Regions from separate parts of the Homo sapiens genome. Here region 1 is linked to region 2. Evidence: fine-mapped expression QTL. A gene starts in region 2. The other region holds a variant in brackets. All regions are shown on one strand. Distances are between the middles of the regions.

Region 1 (8,523 bases), 73 kb after region 2:
GTTTCAAGGCTTTTTTAGTGACGAAGATAAAATACATTTTTTTTAAAAGAAAGAGAAAACACATCTTTTGTTCATCTTGCTAATTAGAATCCAAATTTAAGAATATAACATTTTTACTTATTTGATTTTATATTTGTATCTTTTATTTATTTTATTACTGTTTTAGAGACAAGGTCTCACTGTGTCACTCAGGCTAGAGTGTAGTGGCACAATTACAGCTCACTGCAGGCTCAAATTCCTGGGCTCAAGCAATCCTCTCGTCTTAGCCTCTCAAACAGCTGGCACTACAAATGTGAGCCACAACGCCTGGCCATATATTTGTATCTTTCTAATCTTATGCTGAACATCTTGCTTTCTAACATAATTACTTATTTGCTTTATCCTATTATATCCATATACTAGTTTTAGGTTAAAGTCAATATTTTTATTAACAACATGATTACTGAAAACAGTTTTTTCTGTCTTTGTGTATATATTAGGGATATACAGACAAATTACTATAGTTTAAGATCTCTGTATATTGTTTTGACACCAATTTGGTATGCTGTGAATTTCACTTGTTTTATTTTGCTTCTGAGTTTTAGGAAATGTGGCAGACAGACTCTAAGGTGCCCCCATGGTCCCCAATCCCCTTGGTACTCAAGCCCTGTCTAATACTTTCCCCCAAGTGTGGGCGAGACCTATAACTTGCTTCTTGCTAACAGAATATGGCAAAAGTAAAGATATTTTAAAGATGTAAAGTAACATCCCAAATCATTTATTAATTTTTTTTTCAGTTTTAGTTGTAGTAAAATACATCAACATAAAATTCACCAATTTAGCCATTTTTAAGTGGCATTAAGTACATTCATATTGTTGTGCAACCATAAGAAGCTTCCATTTCCAGGACTTTTTTTCATCTTCCCCAACTGAAACTCTATACAGTAAACAGTAACTCCCCATTCCACTGCTTCCAACCCCTGGAAACCAACATTTTGCCTTCTGTCTCTATGAACCTAACTACTCTAAGTACCTTATGTAAGTGGAATCATACAATATTTGTCTTTTTGTGTCTGGCTTATTTCACTTGCCATAATGTCTCCTGGGTTCATCCATGTTGTAGCCTGCAGCATGTGGCAGAATTTCCTTCCTTTTATTAAGGCTGAGTAATATTCCATTATATGTATATACCATACTTTGTTTACCCATTCATCTGTTGATGGACACTTGAGTTACTTCCACTTTTTGGATGCTATGAAAACTGGTGCACAAATATCTGTTCAAGTCCCTGCTTTCAATTCTTTTGGACACATACCCAGAGGTGAGATTGCTGGATCATACAGTAATTCCATTTTGAACTTTCTGAAGAAGCACCAGACCATTTTCCACAGCAGCTGCACCATTTTACATTCCTATCAACAGTGTACAAGGGTGCCAATTTCTTCACATGCTTGCTAACATACTATTTTCTGTTTTGTTTTGTTTTTTCTTTTTTTGATAGTAGCCATTCTAACGGCTGTGAGGCCAAAGTAGATGATTTTGTGTTAATTAAAATGGAGGCCCTTTTCACAAGACGGTGCCGAAAGCAAAGAAGGAAGCTCCTGCTCCTCCTAAAGCCGAAGCCAAAGCAAAGGCTTTGAAGGCCAAGAAGGCAGTGTTGAAAGGTGTCCACAGCCACAAAAAAAAGAAGATCCGCACGTCACCTACCTTCCAGCGGCCCAAGACACTGCGATTCTGGAGGCAGCCCAAGTACCCTCAGAAGACCAACCCCGGAGAACAAGCTTGACCACTATGCTATCATCAAGTTTCCACTGACCACTGAGTCTGCCATGAAGAAGATAGAAGACAACAACACACTTGTGTTCACTGTGGATGTTAAAGCCAACAAGCACCAGATCAAATAGGCTGTGAAGAAGCTCTATGACACTGATGTGACCAAGGTCAACACCCTGATTCAGCGTGATGGAGAGAAGAAGGCATATGTTGGACTGGCTCCTGATTACGATGCTTTGGATGTTGCCAACAAAATTGGGATCATTTAAACTGAGTCCAGCTGGGTAATTCTAAATATATGTATATCTTTTCACCATAACAACAACAAAAAAAAGGCTGGGCATGGTGGCTCACTCACACCTGTAATCTCAGCAGTTTGGGAGGCCAAGGAGGGTGGATCACGAGGTCAGGGGTTCAAGATCAGCCTGGGCAAGATGGCAAAACCCCATCTGTACTAAAAATACAAAAAGTAGCCGGGTGTGGTGGCAGGTGCCTGTAATCCCAGCTACTCAGGAGGCTGGGGCAGGAGAATTGCTTGAACCCGGGTGGCAGAGGTTGTAGTGAGCCAAGATCGCGCCACTACACTCCAACCTGGGCAATAGAGTGAGACTCTGTCTCAAAAAAAAAAAAAAAGAAAGAAAAAGGGGAGAGGCCGGTCACGGTGGCTCACACCTGTAATCCCAGCACTTTGGGAGGCCGAGGCAGACGGATCACCTGAGGTCAGGAGTTCCAGACCAGCCTGACCAACATGATGAAACCCGTCCTCTACTAAAATTACAAAAAAAAAAAAAAATTATCCAGGCGTGGTGGCCGGTGCCTGTAATCCCAGCTACTCGGGAGGCTGAGGCAGGAGAATGGCTTGAACCTGGGAGGCGGAGTTTGCAATGAGCCAAGATCATATCATTGCACTCCAGCCTGGGCAACAAGAGTGAAACTCCATCTCAGAAAAAAAGAGATTCTCCTGGGTGGACTTGACTGAAACAGGTAAAAGCCCTTTAAAAGGGAACTGTACCCCTACACAAACGTCAGACTCTTCCTCCATTGCTGCTTTAAAGAAGCAAGCTGCCTTGAATCCTAAAGTTGCAAGGAAAGGAATTCTGTCAACAACCTGACGGAACTTGGAAGCATATTCTTCTCCAGGGGAGCCTCAAATAAGAATGCAGCCTGTATATGAACAAGGAAAAAAAAGAAAAGAAAAGAATGCAGCATGGTAAACACCTTAATTGTAGCCTTGCAAGGCCCTGGCCAGAGGACCTAGAGATAAGCTGTGTCCAAACTTGAGACACACAGAAATTGGGTTTTAAGCCACTAATTTTTTGTTGTTGTTTTGTTTTTTGAAACAGAGTCTTGCTCTGTCGCCCAGGCTAGAGTGCAGTGGCGCAATCTTGACTCACTGCAACCTCTGTCTCCCAGGTTCAAATGATTCTCCTGCCTTAGTCTCCCAAGTAGCTGGAATTACAGGTGTGCACCACCATGCCTGGCTAATTTTTTGTTTGTTTGTTTGTTTTGTTTGTTTGTTTTTTAGTAGAGACAGGGTTTCGGCATGTTGCCCAGGCTGGTCTTGAAATCCTGGCCTCAAGTGATCCACCCACCTCAGCCTCCCAAAGTGCTGGGATTACAGGCGTCAGCCACTGTGCCCGGCCTCCTTAAACATCAACTTTTAACCCAGAGAGAATTTTGGTTGGCCTCATCCCCAGCAACCCAAAAAAAGATAAATTAATGAAACACTAACTTCTCTTTAGCTCAGTCACTGGCCATCTTAGTGTAAGGTGAAACCGTTACTTATTAGTAC[T/C]GACTATTTTTCTTCTATCAGGTCATGGGTGCAAATAGTCACCCAAAATGTATTATGTATACCCTCCTGTTCAAGACAAAATCAGATCCTCTAGTTAAGAGTCTCCTCTCTTAGCTTTATTCTCTGATACGATTTTCTTACTGTGTAACCTTGAAGAAGCCACTTAACTTCTCTGCATCTGTTTTTTCACCTACCAAAACATGATGTGATGATATACTGTACACCTTGAAGGTTTTGGTTTTTTTTTTAGAATCCAAGAAAACAAAATATGTAAAAATTGCCTTGTGTACTGAAAATACTGTACAAATTAAACAGTTGCTATTCATTTGAAAGATCTGACCACTGGAAAATATGGCCACTATTTACACAAAAAGAAATGAAGACAGAAGGATCCAGTAGAACTGAGACACAGACATAGAATCCACCCACATAGGAAGAGCAGATGTTTTCTTCGAGGAGCCACGATTCTAATTTTCAGCTTAGGAAACTAACTCCCTTCTTCCTGCCTTAGTTTACACCAAGAAGCACAGCTATAGTACTTATGGATGTTCTCAGAAGTCACCCAGCTGGGTCAGACCTGGAGGACCTGGGAAGCATCGAGAAGAGGAAGGGGGAAGGACTTGTTTGCAAGAAACCAGACTGGAACACAGAAGAAGGGGTCACAAAAATACCGATTAGAAAACAAACAAACAAAAAACTAAAAAAACCCCAGCATTAATAAATGGTCTCCTTTGGGAGACCGAGGCAGGCGGATCACAAAGTCAGGAGTTCGAGACCAGCCTGGTCAACATGGTGAAACTCCGTCTCTACTAAAAAATATAAGAATTAGCCAGGCGTGGTGGCGTGTGCCTGTAGTCCCAGCTACTTGAGAGGCTGAGGCAAGAGAATTGCTTGAACCTGGGAGGCGGAGGTTGCAGTGAGCCGAGATTGCACCACTGCACTCCAGCCTGGGCAACAGAACAAGACTCCGTCTCAATAAATAAATAAATAAATAAATAAATATTCTCTCGGTTCGGCAATCTAGATTCCCAAATCACCAACTGCACACCCAGCGCTTAAATCCCCTCTACAAGCGCCTGGGCCAGCAACTGCCCAGACGACTAGGAAAACTTCAGGGATGGTGAGTTTACTGCCTCCCAGTGCCTATCCACATTTGGAAATTCTTCTACATCCCAATGAAGAGTTAACAGCTTTCTAGCTCTCTATTCTGAGTAACAAAAAGTCAAATCCCTTTTCCATATGGGAAGACCTCAGCTATTTTTAAATACCTGTTGTGGGTCATAGTTCAACTCCCTACATATTCCATCTCAAAGTCTTTTCGTCTTCAAACTAGAATATTTCCAGTTACCTCACTTTTATAGTCATTCCTCATAGATGGACAGTTTTGAAAGGTTTTGCCAGTTTGAATGCCACCATTCTCTGGACACACTCTGATTGGTTTAAATCCCTTGTTGAATGTTGCACCCAGAAGGGGCTGTTGGGTCAGAGACGGACATGAGGCAGGCACTTACCTCTGAGTATCTGTATAAAGAACAGCCCCTCAGCCGTCTATGTACCTGCCCAAATTTCAAAGTTTCCCTACCAATCAGATACAGGAAAGGGGTTTAGATAACCAATTTTGGGTGATTTGATTATAGGAAGAGATAGCAATAAATCATTAGTGAACCCTTTTGGTGTTCAGGCCAGACTCTTCCAGGACATTTCTACCTGCTTGGAGAGATAGAGAAGGGACTGAGTTGTGAGGGTGAACTCAGGTAGTGCAGGGCTTTCCAAGAGCCACAGAGTCTGAGTAGCCTGTGGGCCTCCAGCCTCAAAGAACTTCCTTAATGTTGGAATACGGCCAGCTTTAAAGCTATCAAGAGTGGGAAGAGTCCTGTGTCTTATTTTACGGACTTGAAAGACTACACAGTGCTTCCTCAGTGCCTGGACTGCCAAATGGCCATGACTACAGGTGAGAACACAGTGGCAGCCGCGGCAGGGGCCACCCTGCCTAGTGGAATCACCTTCAAAAGGAGAGCTGGGCATATGTGCCAAACTGTAAAATCTGCGGACCTTGTGACCCACAATCCCACTTTAGAAACTGATCCTGAGATAATTGGACGCAGTTGCCAAGATGTTCATATATGGGCAACAATCTTATAGTGTTGTTTAAAATAGGGAAAACTGGAAACTATCTGCAAGTTCATCCAGAGGGGTCTATTTATCCTAGAGGGGCCTGTTATGTTAGTATCATACAATGAAATGCCATACAATTACAAGCACTGCTATAGATATATATATATATATATATATATATATATATATATATATGTGTATATATATATATATATATATATTTTTTTTTTTTTTTTTTTTTTTTGAGACAGAGTTTTGCTCTTGTCGCCCAGGCTGGAGTGCAATAGTGCAATCTTGGCTCACTGCAACCTCCGCCTCCCAGGTTCAAGTGATTCTCCTGCCTCAGCCTCCCAAGTAGCTGGGATTACAGGCGCCCGCCACCTCACCCAGATAATTTTTGTATTTTTAGCAGAGACAGGGTTTCATCACATTGGCCAAGCTGGTCTTGAACTCCTGACCTCAGGTGATCCACCTGCCTTGGCCTTCCAAAGTGCTGGGATTACAGGCGTGAGCCACTGTGCCCGGCTGAACTATAGTTACTTAGCTAGAAAGACTTCCATGACATGATGCTGTGTGAATAAAGCATGTTAATATATACAGTACTTAGTACAACTGCCTATTTTTTGTATAGAGACATATCTAGAAGGATAGTAACCAAATAAAAATGGCTGTCTCAGCAGCATAATATTTATTTTTGTTTTCAACATATATTTATTTAAGTTACAAAGTAACATAGGCTTATTATAAGAGAGTCAAACAACAAAGAAATGTATAAAGTAAAACATGAAAATCTCTTTTCCCATCAGTCCCATTTCTCAGCTATTAACATTTGCTGTTAACATCTGATATGCAGTCTTTAAGACTTTCTTTTCAGCATGTATAATCAAAGTCATACTTTTTTTTTTTTTTAAGTAAAAATGAAACTCCACTCTACCCATTGTTCTGCGACAAGGTTTCTTTATGTTTTCAGTGTTGCCTGGATTTTTTTAATGTCCTTTTTGTAATTAGGGAAAACAATAATGTTATATTTGTTTGGGGGAATAAAAGTGTACCAGCCAAGGACAGAAGACAATGAATGTGTGATGTGAGTGGCCCAGTAAAGAGAAGCAAAGGACAAGGTTTTCCTGTGTTCAGATCACCACGGTACTCAATACAGGAGGACCTAGACATGCCCGGTTGGCCCAGGAGGTTGATAGTGTCCTGTTCTTCCTAAATCTTCAAAGCCAAACATAGGCTGCTGGAGCTAGGCCTGGGGCTAGGGGATATTGGGCTATAGCCTCTCCCAGAGATGTGTTCCCTGCCCAGCACAGTGCCCCAGGTATGCAGCTTCCACTGGGCCAAGCAGGACAAGGCAGAGAAGGACCCCCACTGCTGTTTCAGAGTCTACCTGCTGCATGCCAGCAAAACAACAATCCACTGCCTGGGTGTGCTGCAATCCCTCTTTAAAAGCACCCGAATTCCCTCCCTTTTCTCTTCCTCCCCTGGCTCAAGCTCCAACTGTCATCTGTCCAGAGAGAGGGCTCTGTGAGGAGTCAGAAATGCTGCTTGAACCTCATCAGAACCCTCGAGGGAGGGCCATTCTGTTCTCTTGGTCCTTGAGTCCTGGGAAGAACCTAAACAACAAGCTTGTCCTCATGTCTGCCCTGCAAGGCAAGAAGACAGGCCTGGCGGTGGAGACCCACTCCCAGGGAATCTCAAGCAGTACTGTGTATGGCTTACGGGTGCCAGTCATTTTCCACTGAGAGAGCTATGAAGAAACTGAGTAAGAAAGCCACTGCCCTGGCCTTTTTTTTTCTTGACAGGTTTTGGATGGGGCGCAGTGGCTCACGCCTGTAATCCCAGCACTTTGGGAGGCCGAGGCAGGCGGATCACGAGGTCAGGAGATCGAGACCCTCCTGGCTAACACAGTGAAACCCCGTCTCTAATAAAAATACAAAAAATTAGCAGGGCATGGTGGTGGGCACCTGTAATTCCAGCTACTAGGGAGGCTGAGGCAGGAGAATGGCATGAACCCGGGAGGCAGAGGTTGCAGTGAGCCGAGATTGTGTCACTGCACTCCAGCCTGAGCAACACAGCGAGACTCTGTCTCAAAAAAAAAAAAAAAAAAAAAAAGAGCCTGTTTCCTTTTCTTTTGCAATGTGCTTCTTAAACAACAACATAAACTTTTTTTTTTTTTGAGATGGAGTCGCTCTGTCACCCAGGCTGGAGTGCAGTGGCACAATCTCGGCTCACTGCAACCTCCGCCTTCCGGGTTCAAGTGATTCTCCTGCCTCAGCCTCCTGAGTAGCTGGGACTATACAGGTGCCCACCACCATGCCCGGCTAATTTCTGTACTTTTTTTTTTTTTTTTTTTTGAGACAGAGTCTCACATTATTGCCTGGGCTGGAGTGCAATGGCATAATCTCGGCTCACTGCAACCTCCGCCTCCCAAGTTCAGGCGATTCTCCTGCCTCAGCCTCCCAAGTAGCTGGGATTACAGGCGCCCGCCACCACGCCTGGTTTATTTTTTGTATTTTTTAGTAGAGACGGGGTTTCACTATGTTGGCCAGGCTGGTCTAGAACTCCTGACCCTGTGAGCCGCCCCCTTGGCCTCCCAAAGTGCTGGGATTATAGGCGTGAGCTACCGCGCCTGACCTAATTTTTGTACTTTTAATAGAGACGTGGTTTCACCATGTTGGCCCCGCTGGTCTCGAATTCCTGACCTCAGGTGATCCACCCATCTCAGCCTCCCAAAGTAATGGGGTTACAGGCGTGAGACACTGCACCCAGCCATAAATAATATTGATTGTTTCTATGTATAATGCTAGGGTCTGCATTAGGAACACTACCTATATTATGAAGTAGATATTACTATTACCTGTGTT
Region 2 (8,000 bases):
CCAGCAAAGGCCCTTTAAGGCAGACTCCCTCCGGGAAGAGAAAAGGGGCCAAGGAAGAGCGCTCCACCCACTCCCCCTGTTTGGCCTACAGAGAGTGCAGAGGGTTCTTCCATTTAGGTTCCTATGGTTCACCCCCTCCTCTCCCTCCTGGGAGGGCAGGCAGGGCCCCTATTCCTCCACATTCAATAAGTCAAACTCATACTTGAGTGACACTGGGCTACTGAAGGGTTTCCAACCCCAGTGGCCTGGGGCACCAGAAAGAATCAGGGGCCTGGGGAGGGGGAACCTGGAGAAGGATGAGGCTCAGGCTGCCACTGCAGGGCACAGCTGCTGAACGCACAGAATTGCACATCTGGCCCTGATGCAACCCACTACTTCTGAGCCTGCCCACACCAGGCACAAGAAAGCACGCGCATGCACGCGCACGCACACACACGCACACACGCACACACACACCCTGCGGAGTTGCCGACAAAGTTCAGTGCCTGCTTCCATCCAATCCACGAGTCTGGAAATGAGGGGCCTGCTGGGGGGCACCCCAGGGAATACTCTGCATGCACATGCCACCCACCCACCCCTGCCTGTGCCCTGAACTGTAGAGACAGGAGACAGGTGCATTGGAGGGCGAAGCACACAGTCTCAAAGACATTCAAAAACACAGACACCTAAAGCTATCCTCCTACACCAAGTCAGGTATAATGACGTTTTCTCCCCCACCCCAATTAAAGACATCCCTAGAACTCAGACCAGCTACAGCAGCACTGTGGGTGCGGGCAGGCATCCGCCCATCGCCCAGGTTGCTGCCCCTCCCCTGTTCCTTTCAGCCACATCTCCTTTCCCCTCCTCTCATTTTCCACTGCCAATCCCAGGACAGAACTGGACAGCCCTCCTTTCTCCTGCCTCTGCACTTTTCCCGGCCTCCTCCCCCAGCCCTTCCATCTTTATTAATAGCAGCAGCTTCCCAATACTGGGGAAAGTGTGGGCTGTGCCTGCCCTGAACGGGGATGGAGGACACAGGGGGTGGAGGACACACTTCCTTTAAGAAACCAGAGGCCTATCCTGGCACACAAACCCAGGGCTAGTCCATCCGATTGGAAACTAATTATACAGCAAATCGTATTTGCTGCCCCCGCCCCAGCCTGTGGTGGCCCTCCTGCCTTTTGTTGGTTGTATGTGTATGTTTTTTAATTGCTAAACAGTGACTCATTCTGACTGGTCCCCCCACACAGGAAACAGCCCCATCTCCAATCATGCCCTGAACAGAGCTTCCTCATAGCCAGCCTCCGCACTGGCCTCCACTAACCTCCAGGGATCCCCACCCAGAGACACTCCCAGTCCCACCAGAGTGCAGCCTAGCCCCCAGATATCACACCCAGGCCCCAGGCCCCAAGGTGGGGCTTCAGAGAGGACTCCTCGGTGTCAGGCCAACCCCTTCATTTTGGTATGACTCAACCCTGAAAGCCAGAGGACTGGGGAGGGACCTAGGAGGAGCCCCCTCCACTGAAGGGGACGGAAGTATTGCCTCAGTCCAGCTCCAAAACCAGGCCCAGAGGCCTGAGGGGGGAGGCGGTTTGACATTGGCCGCGGCCGCAGGGTGTATACAATGGGAGGGGACGCGGTTCCGTAATCACCCAGCCGGCAGCCCAGGGGAGCCAGCTGCCTGAAACCAGATTTCAAGGCGGCTCAACCTTAAACCCACAGGATTCTTTTTCCGTCTTCCACTTCCCCTCCCCAAATGTGGGAGGGCGGCGAGAGGGCTGTGCTAGGCGAAAGGGCCAGGATGATGAAGACAGATACTTGAAGGCTTGTTCATGCGGCCCGTGCGACACACAGGCACACAGGGCAGCGATTCTCACACAGGGAGAGCCGGCTCTCGGGAGGAATCCAAATAGCGGAGCCGCTGTCGGGGCCTCGCTGGCTGCCCAGGCCCTGTCCAGAGAGACGGCCGGAGTTCTGCTCTCCCTCTGGAAACTCCCCCCACTCCCCCCCCAGTGTGTTTCCAATAGCGCTGAAAACTAACATGGCTGCTTTTGTTTACTTCCTCATTGGTATGCCAGCATCATGGATCATGTCAGCCACAGCAGCGGCACCGGGACACTCATTACATAAACAGCAGCTGGAGAGGCAGGACCGGGGTCACTGCCTCGGTGACTTCCCGTAGGGCCTACAGCAACAAGACTGGGGGAGGGAGCTGCGCACCACAGAAAAGCAACACCCAGACTCTACCCCTGACGGTCCCACACCCCAATCCCATAAAGCACTCAGAAGACGGACCCTGTGCGCACAGGTGCGAGAATGTACCAAGTAGCGACCCGGGGCCCTTCTTCCCAGGACCCTGTCCCCAAACTTTCAGAGAAGAGTTTGGCCAGGGGCCACTGGCCTGATGTCACAAGAGTCAGCCTGTCGGGATGGGTGGTCCCGGGGCGGGAGAGAGGAAGGGACTGTGTGTCTGTGTGTGTGTGTGTGCGCGCGCGCGCGTAGGGTACTTGCCCGGATTTCATTCCTTCGGATCTCCACGTCGCACACCGAGTGTCCCTGATGCGCGCCGCTGTAGTAGCAGCAGTACTGGCACACGGCCACCTGCTCGGCCTCGCAGTGGTAGAGGCGGTAGGCGTTGTGCTGCGGGCAGCTCCAGGCCCGCACGTCGTCCGCCTCCACCAGGAGGTGCCCGCGGGCGGTGGAGGGCTGCTGCAGGTGCGTCTGCACGTGGGACTGGCAGCAGGGCGCCTCGCAGCGCAGGCAGACCTTCTGCGCGGGCAGCGGGGGGCCGCGGCGGCAGAACACGCAGTGCAGCGCCGCCGGCGGCTTCTCCACGTGCAGGGCATTGAACTTCTCCACGATGTTGGTGAGCTTCAGGTTCTTCTCCAGGCCCGGCTTCTGGTTGTAGGCCTGGTTGCACTCTGGGCAGCGTACGAGGCCGCTGTCCTTGGCCCACGCCTCGCCGATGCAGCCCCGGCAGAAGTTGTGTTTGCACGGCAGCTGCACTGGCTCCACGAAAACGTGCAGGCAGATAGGGCAGATGAGCTCCTCCTCGAAGCAGTTCTTCCAATTCTCCGCCATGGCGGCCGCGGGCAGGGGGCCGGGGCAGGCCTCCCCGACTCCCCAGCCCCGGGGGTCCGTCCGGAGCCGCTGTAGGCCCACCGAGCCCCGAGCTCCGGCCCCAGCCGGCCCCGACGGTCGCTCAGTCAGCAGCGCCTTCCGCGTGCCCGCCCCCCGGAGGAGGGAGCCGCGGTCCTCACGCCGCGCGCGCAGCGGGCTGCGTCTCCTCCTCCTCCCGAGCGCCTAGCGGGAGGCGGCGGACTGCGCCAGGGCCGCGGCCGGGACTCCAGCCTTGGAGGGGAGCGCCGGGGTCCAAATTCCATATAAGAGGCCGCCTCCCCGTCGGCGCGGCTAGGGCAGTGGCGGCCCGCGGCCTGCGCTCGTCCCCGCGGCTGACATTGGGGCGCGCCCCGCGGCAGACGGAGCTTGGGAGCAGCACACTTCTTCCGGCGGCGGCGGCAGCGGCGGCTCCTGCCTGGCTCGTCGGCGCCGCACCTCCCTCGCAGGGGCCGGAGCCCGGGGTCTGCGGGGCCAGGAGGCGAGGGCGGCCGCGCCGAGGGCTGCTAGATCCGGACGGGGCGGGAGGGGCAGGCCGGCGGTCCCCGGGCCACGGTGCAGGCGTCCCCCGGCTGGCTGGCCGGGCGCGGGCTGCGGGGCGCGGGCGGGCCGACTCCGGGGCGCTGCGTGCGCGCAGGGGCAGTCATTCAGATGAAATTCCAGTCCCCGGCCAGAGACACCAGCCCGCCTCTGCCTTCCTCCTCCCTTCACAAATAGAAACGGAAGGGGGAGGGAGAGAAGTGGAAAAAAAGGCAACCGGCGAGGGAGGGAGGGAGAAGCCCCGGCGGCGCTCCGGCCTGACCCCCGGGCGGCTACTTCTGCGCTCCCCCGAGGCCCGGCGCCCCCGCCGCGGAGAGACCCCGCGCGCCCGTCTCCGCGCTGGGCGGGCGCCCGGGCTCTGCCGAGGAAAACAAGGATTGATCAAACTAGAAAGGAATTTTTCTCAACTGCTAATGAACAGGAGGCTCGGCTCCCGGCCCTCCCCTCCCCTCCCCCGGCCCTCCCCCTTCGCCCCCCCGGCCCCCTCCTCCCCACTTTCTTTTCTTCTCGGCCTCTGCTGGGGCCTGGAAGGCTCGGGGCTGCGGTCGGAGCCAGCCTGCGGCGGCGGGGCCAGGCCGAGCCGCCACCCTCAGCGCCCAGCCATCTTGGGCTCCGCGGCGGCGGCCGGGGTCTGGGCGCGCTCGCTGAGGGCCCCGCGGCGTCCTCTCGCTCCTGATTCTTTTTTTTTTTTTTTTGGTGGGATTTTTTTTTTTCCAAGGGGAGGGCTGGCGGCCTCCAACAAATTAGGAGAGAGAGAGGGAGAAAATGCCAAGTCCCGATTTCTCTCCACCTCTGCTCCACCCACCCCGGTCCTGTCCAAAAAATAAAAGAAGATGAGAATTGGAAGAAGTCGGCAGAAAGGCGAGAGCCCGCGGTCCCCGGCTGCTGCCCAGGCGACGCGTCCGGGGCGGGCCCGCACCCGTTGCTCGGTCCGAGGTCCGTCTGTCTGCCCGCGGCTTCTCAAGGGAGGGGAGGGCGCTTCGGGCAGGGTCTCCGCAGCCGCTGTCGCCTCAGAGCTTTATCCTCAGATCAAAAAAGAAAAAACAGGAAGAAAAAAATCCCAACCCCAACACTCTCATCACAGCCACCTTCAGCCATCTTGCGCGTATTATTATTTCAGGAATAATCTGTTTAATAAAAATACCTGCGTATCCAGCCCCTCCCCCGCGTCCTGGGGTCCCCGCCCCCTTTTAATAATAATCTCGATAATAAAAACGATCGGCGGGCCGGGCAGTCCGTGGCGGCCCTTTCCTGCCTCGACTTGCTCGGGCCCGGCTCTCCCCCCGCGAAGGGGCGCCCCGGGGTGGGGGTGCGTCCCCGTCACCCGCGCGGGGAGGAAAGGGCGCCCTCGCCGCCGCCGCGAGGAAGGCGGCGGCGGAGATGCCGCGGCCCGCGGGACCAGCCGGAGGGGCACTCGGGGGTCCCGGGGCCCCCGCCACGGCCCGGCCTGGGAGTCCGCAGCCGGCCGTATACAATGGGTTCGGAGCAGAGCGGGGCAGGCAGGGTGGGGAAACGGGAGGGCCAGGGGCTGCAGCGAGCCGAGCTCCCGGGCTGGGGCGGAAGGAGACGGGGGGTGGTGTCCCTACATCAAGGCCGGTCCCGCTACTCGGGAAGGGGGCGGAGAGCTGCGGCGCTGGGGGGCGAGGAGAAAGCGGCAGGCGGCGCCTTTAATCGGCACCCGCCGGTTCGGCCCACCCGGCACTGGCGAAAGAAACGGGCGCGGTGGGGGGGAAGGGGCGGGGCGTGCTTTCCGGAAGTACAGTTACAGGGCCGGGCGCCCGGCTCCTCCCCCTTTCCCTGTCGCGTTGGGGCTGTTCCGGAGGCTGCTCCTGCTATTGGCCCACAAGCTGAGGCTCCACCTCCCTAAGGCGGGGCAGACCCGAGAGTCTCACGTGACTCTCACAAACTTCGGTACATTAAACATTGGGATGGGAGGGGGTTTTCCGCGCTTGTTAAAAAAGCGATGATGCCACGGCGTAGTGGGACCACCTCTTCCTGGGCCTGAAGTGAAGACCCGTGGCTCTTTTTACCCAGAGGGAAAGGAGCGTTTGTCGGTCTGCTCAGCAGTCCGGTGGAACTGAGCAGGGAAATGCAAAGGTTCAGTGTGGGGAGATTTCCCGATGTCCTTAATACTTTTAACTTCATCCCTGGCACTTTAAACTACCTAGCAAGATAGGCATTTATTCCTCTATTAATAAGGAAACCATGGCTTAAAGAACTGCAGAAATCTGCCAAGGTCAATGGTCAGTCAATAAATCTTTAACAAAATATTTTTCTAGGCCCTGAGAATTCCCAGAAAAACGTACAAAAAATTTAACGTAAATACACGGAGGACAATTTACGTGATAGAGAATAACAGGCTCACACAAAGGCTTTCTGAAAAAGTGACATTTGAGCTGGGACCTGAATGCACACAAAGAGTCAGATAGGTGAAACCTGGGGGAGGAGCGATCCAGTCGGAAGAAAAAACAAATGCAAAAGCAATAGAACAGGCAGGTTCCAGGACAGAAAGAAGGCCATGTGTCCAGGAAGAAAGGTAGGGGCCAGAACACACAGGGCCTTCCTTATATATCTATTATATATTATATAATAGTACGCTTATTATAAGTGTGCTATATAAGTATAGTATAAGATACTATATATTATAAGTACACTATAAAAGTATAGTATACTATTATATATAGTACATATTATATCTAGTATAGGATATACAGTATATGGTGATAAGTATATAGTATAAATATACTATATGTATTATATGTATTTATAGTGTATATTATATATGCTATAATATACCATGTTATATATACCATACCATATATTATATATACTATAATATACCATATATATACTATACCATATATTATATACTATAATATACCATATATACTATACCATATATATACTATAATATACCATATATTATATATACTATAATTATTGTTTTTTGAGACAAGTTTCACTCTTGTTGCTCGGGCTGGAGTGCAATGGCGTGATCTCGGCTCACTCCAACCTCCGCCTCCAGGGTTCAAGTGATTCTCCTGCCTCAGCCTCCTGAGTAGCTGGGGTTACAGGCATGCACCACCACGCTTGGCTAATTTTGTATTTTTAGTAGAGACAAGGTTTCACTATATTGGTAAGCCTGGTCTCAAACTCCTGACCTCAGGTAATCCAGCTGCGTTGGCCTCCCAAAGTGCTAGGATTACAGGCGTCAGCCTCCATGCCAGGCTATACTATAATATTTATACTCTATATTTTTCCCTTCTATCCTCCAAAAATGTTTTAAAAATGATTCCTAGGATTTGGATCTCAACAAAAGGCTGATGGTAGCACCATTTACTAAAAAGGGGAAAATTGAACAGGATTAGATTATTTGAGTAAGGGTATTTTCTTTTCTTCTCTATTTTCTCTTTTCTTTTCTTTTCTTTTCTTTTTTTTTGAGACAGGGTTTCACCCTGTTGCCCTGGCTTGAGTGCAGTGGCGCAATCATGGCTCACTGCAGCCTCAACTTCCCAGGCTCAGGTGATCCTACCTCCTCAGCCACCTGAGTAGCTAGGACTACAAGCTCACAAAACAGCCCAGCTAAATTTTTGTATTTTTTTGTAGAGTGAGGGTTTCACCATGTTGCCCAGGCTGGTGAGTAAAGGGATTTTCTAAGTTGAGTTGGCTCATATCCCAATGGAAATATTGAGGAGACAATTGTATATACAGGCCCAGTGGGGATGTTTGTCCTGGAGATAGGGATTTTGGAGTCATCAAAGATTATGTTCTAAATGGTAGAACTGAGATTGAAATCTAGTTCAGTATGACCCCTGGGTCCCTGATCCTCTGATGACAGAGCCTGTCTTTAGTGTTTTGTATCTCTTCACATGGGGGGTTATATGCAGGGCAAGTGAATATGTGAATAAATGAATGAATGAACAAACAAGGAGAAAGTGGCTTCTAAGCCCTAATCCTCAATTCCATGCTGTAAGGATGGTGCAAAGAAAGAAGGTCTAGCTTGGAAGCAGTTGGAGGGCCCTTTCTGACCTCCTCACCAGTGACCTCCAGGATAAACAATCTAAACAATTCCTCACTTCTTGTCTTTTTTGAACACTCCCCTTAACTTGTAAGATATCATATGCTTGTCGTTTTCTTCTTATCTTCTAATCATAGATGTCTCCAATTTCCATCTCATAAATGTTGGCAGTCTTCAGAGTTCTGCTTTCCATCCTCTTCTCTTACCAATCTACACCCTGGGGCTATCTCATTTACTCCTGAGCTTTATTACCATCTACATGCTGATGACTCCCCAGTCAGTATCTCCAGGCTAAATCCTCACCTCCTGGTTGCAGATCTGTGTAACTGGCTATGCTGTCTGCACA

Evidence for each region.
Region 1: its variant is fine-mapped to the expression of TRIM8 in whole blood (TOPMed, PIP above 0.99).

Annotation. Positions count from the first base shown.
Region 1 is chr10:102,566,255-102,574,777 of GRCh38, reverse strand. The region is part of intron 3 of SUFU (SUFU negative regulator of hedgehog signaling); the gene reads right to left. It also overlaps the pseudogene RPL23AP58. Among named protein-coding and RNA genes, the nearest start is that of SUFU, 67 kb to the right of the region's middle. RefSeq lists an enhancer at 8,401-8,523. The variant T/C (reference allele first, on the strand shown) is at 3,545.
Region 2 is chr10:102,639,678-102,647,677 of GRCh38, reverse strand. It overlaps TRIM8 (tripartite motif containing 8), which reads right to left and starts at 3,199. Exons shown (of 6, transcript NM_030912.3): 1 at 2,491-3,199. The coding sequence starts at 3,060. It overlaps TRIM8-DT (TRIM8 divergent transcript), which reads left to right and starts at 4,489. Exons shown (of 1, transcript NR_186489.1): 1 at 4,489-4,886. RefSeq lists silencers at 1,548-1,764, 3,050-4,029, 4,110-4,209, 4,480-4,539, 4,870-5,499 and 1 more and enhancers at 1,940-2,039, 2,820-2,949, 3,051-3,806, 3,807-4,561.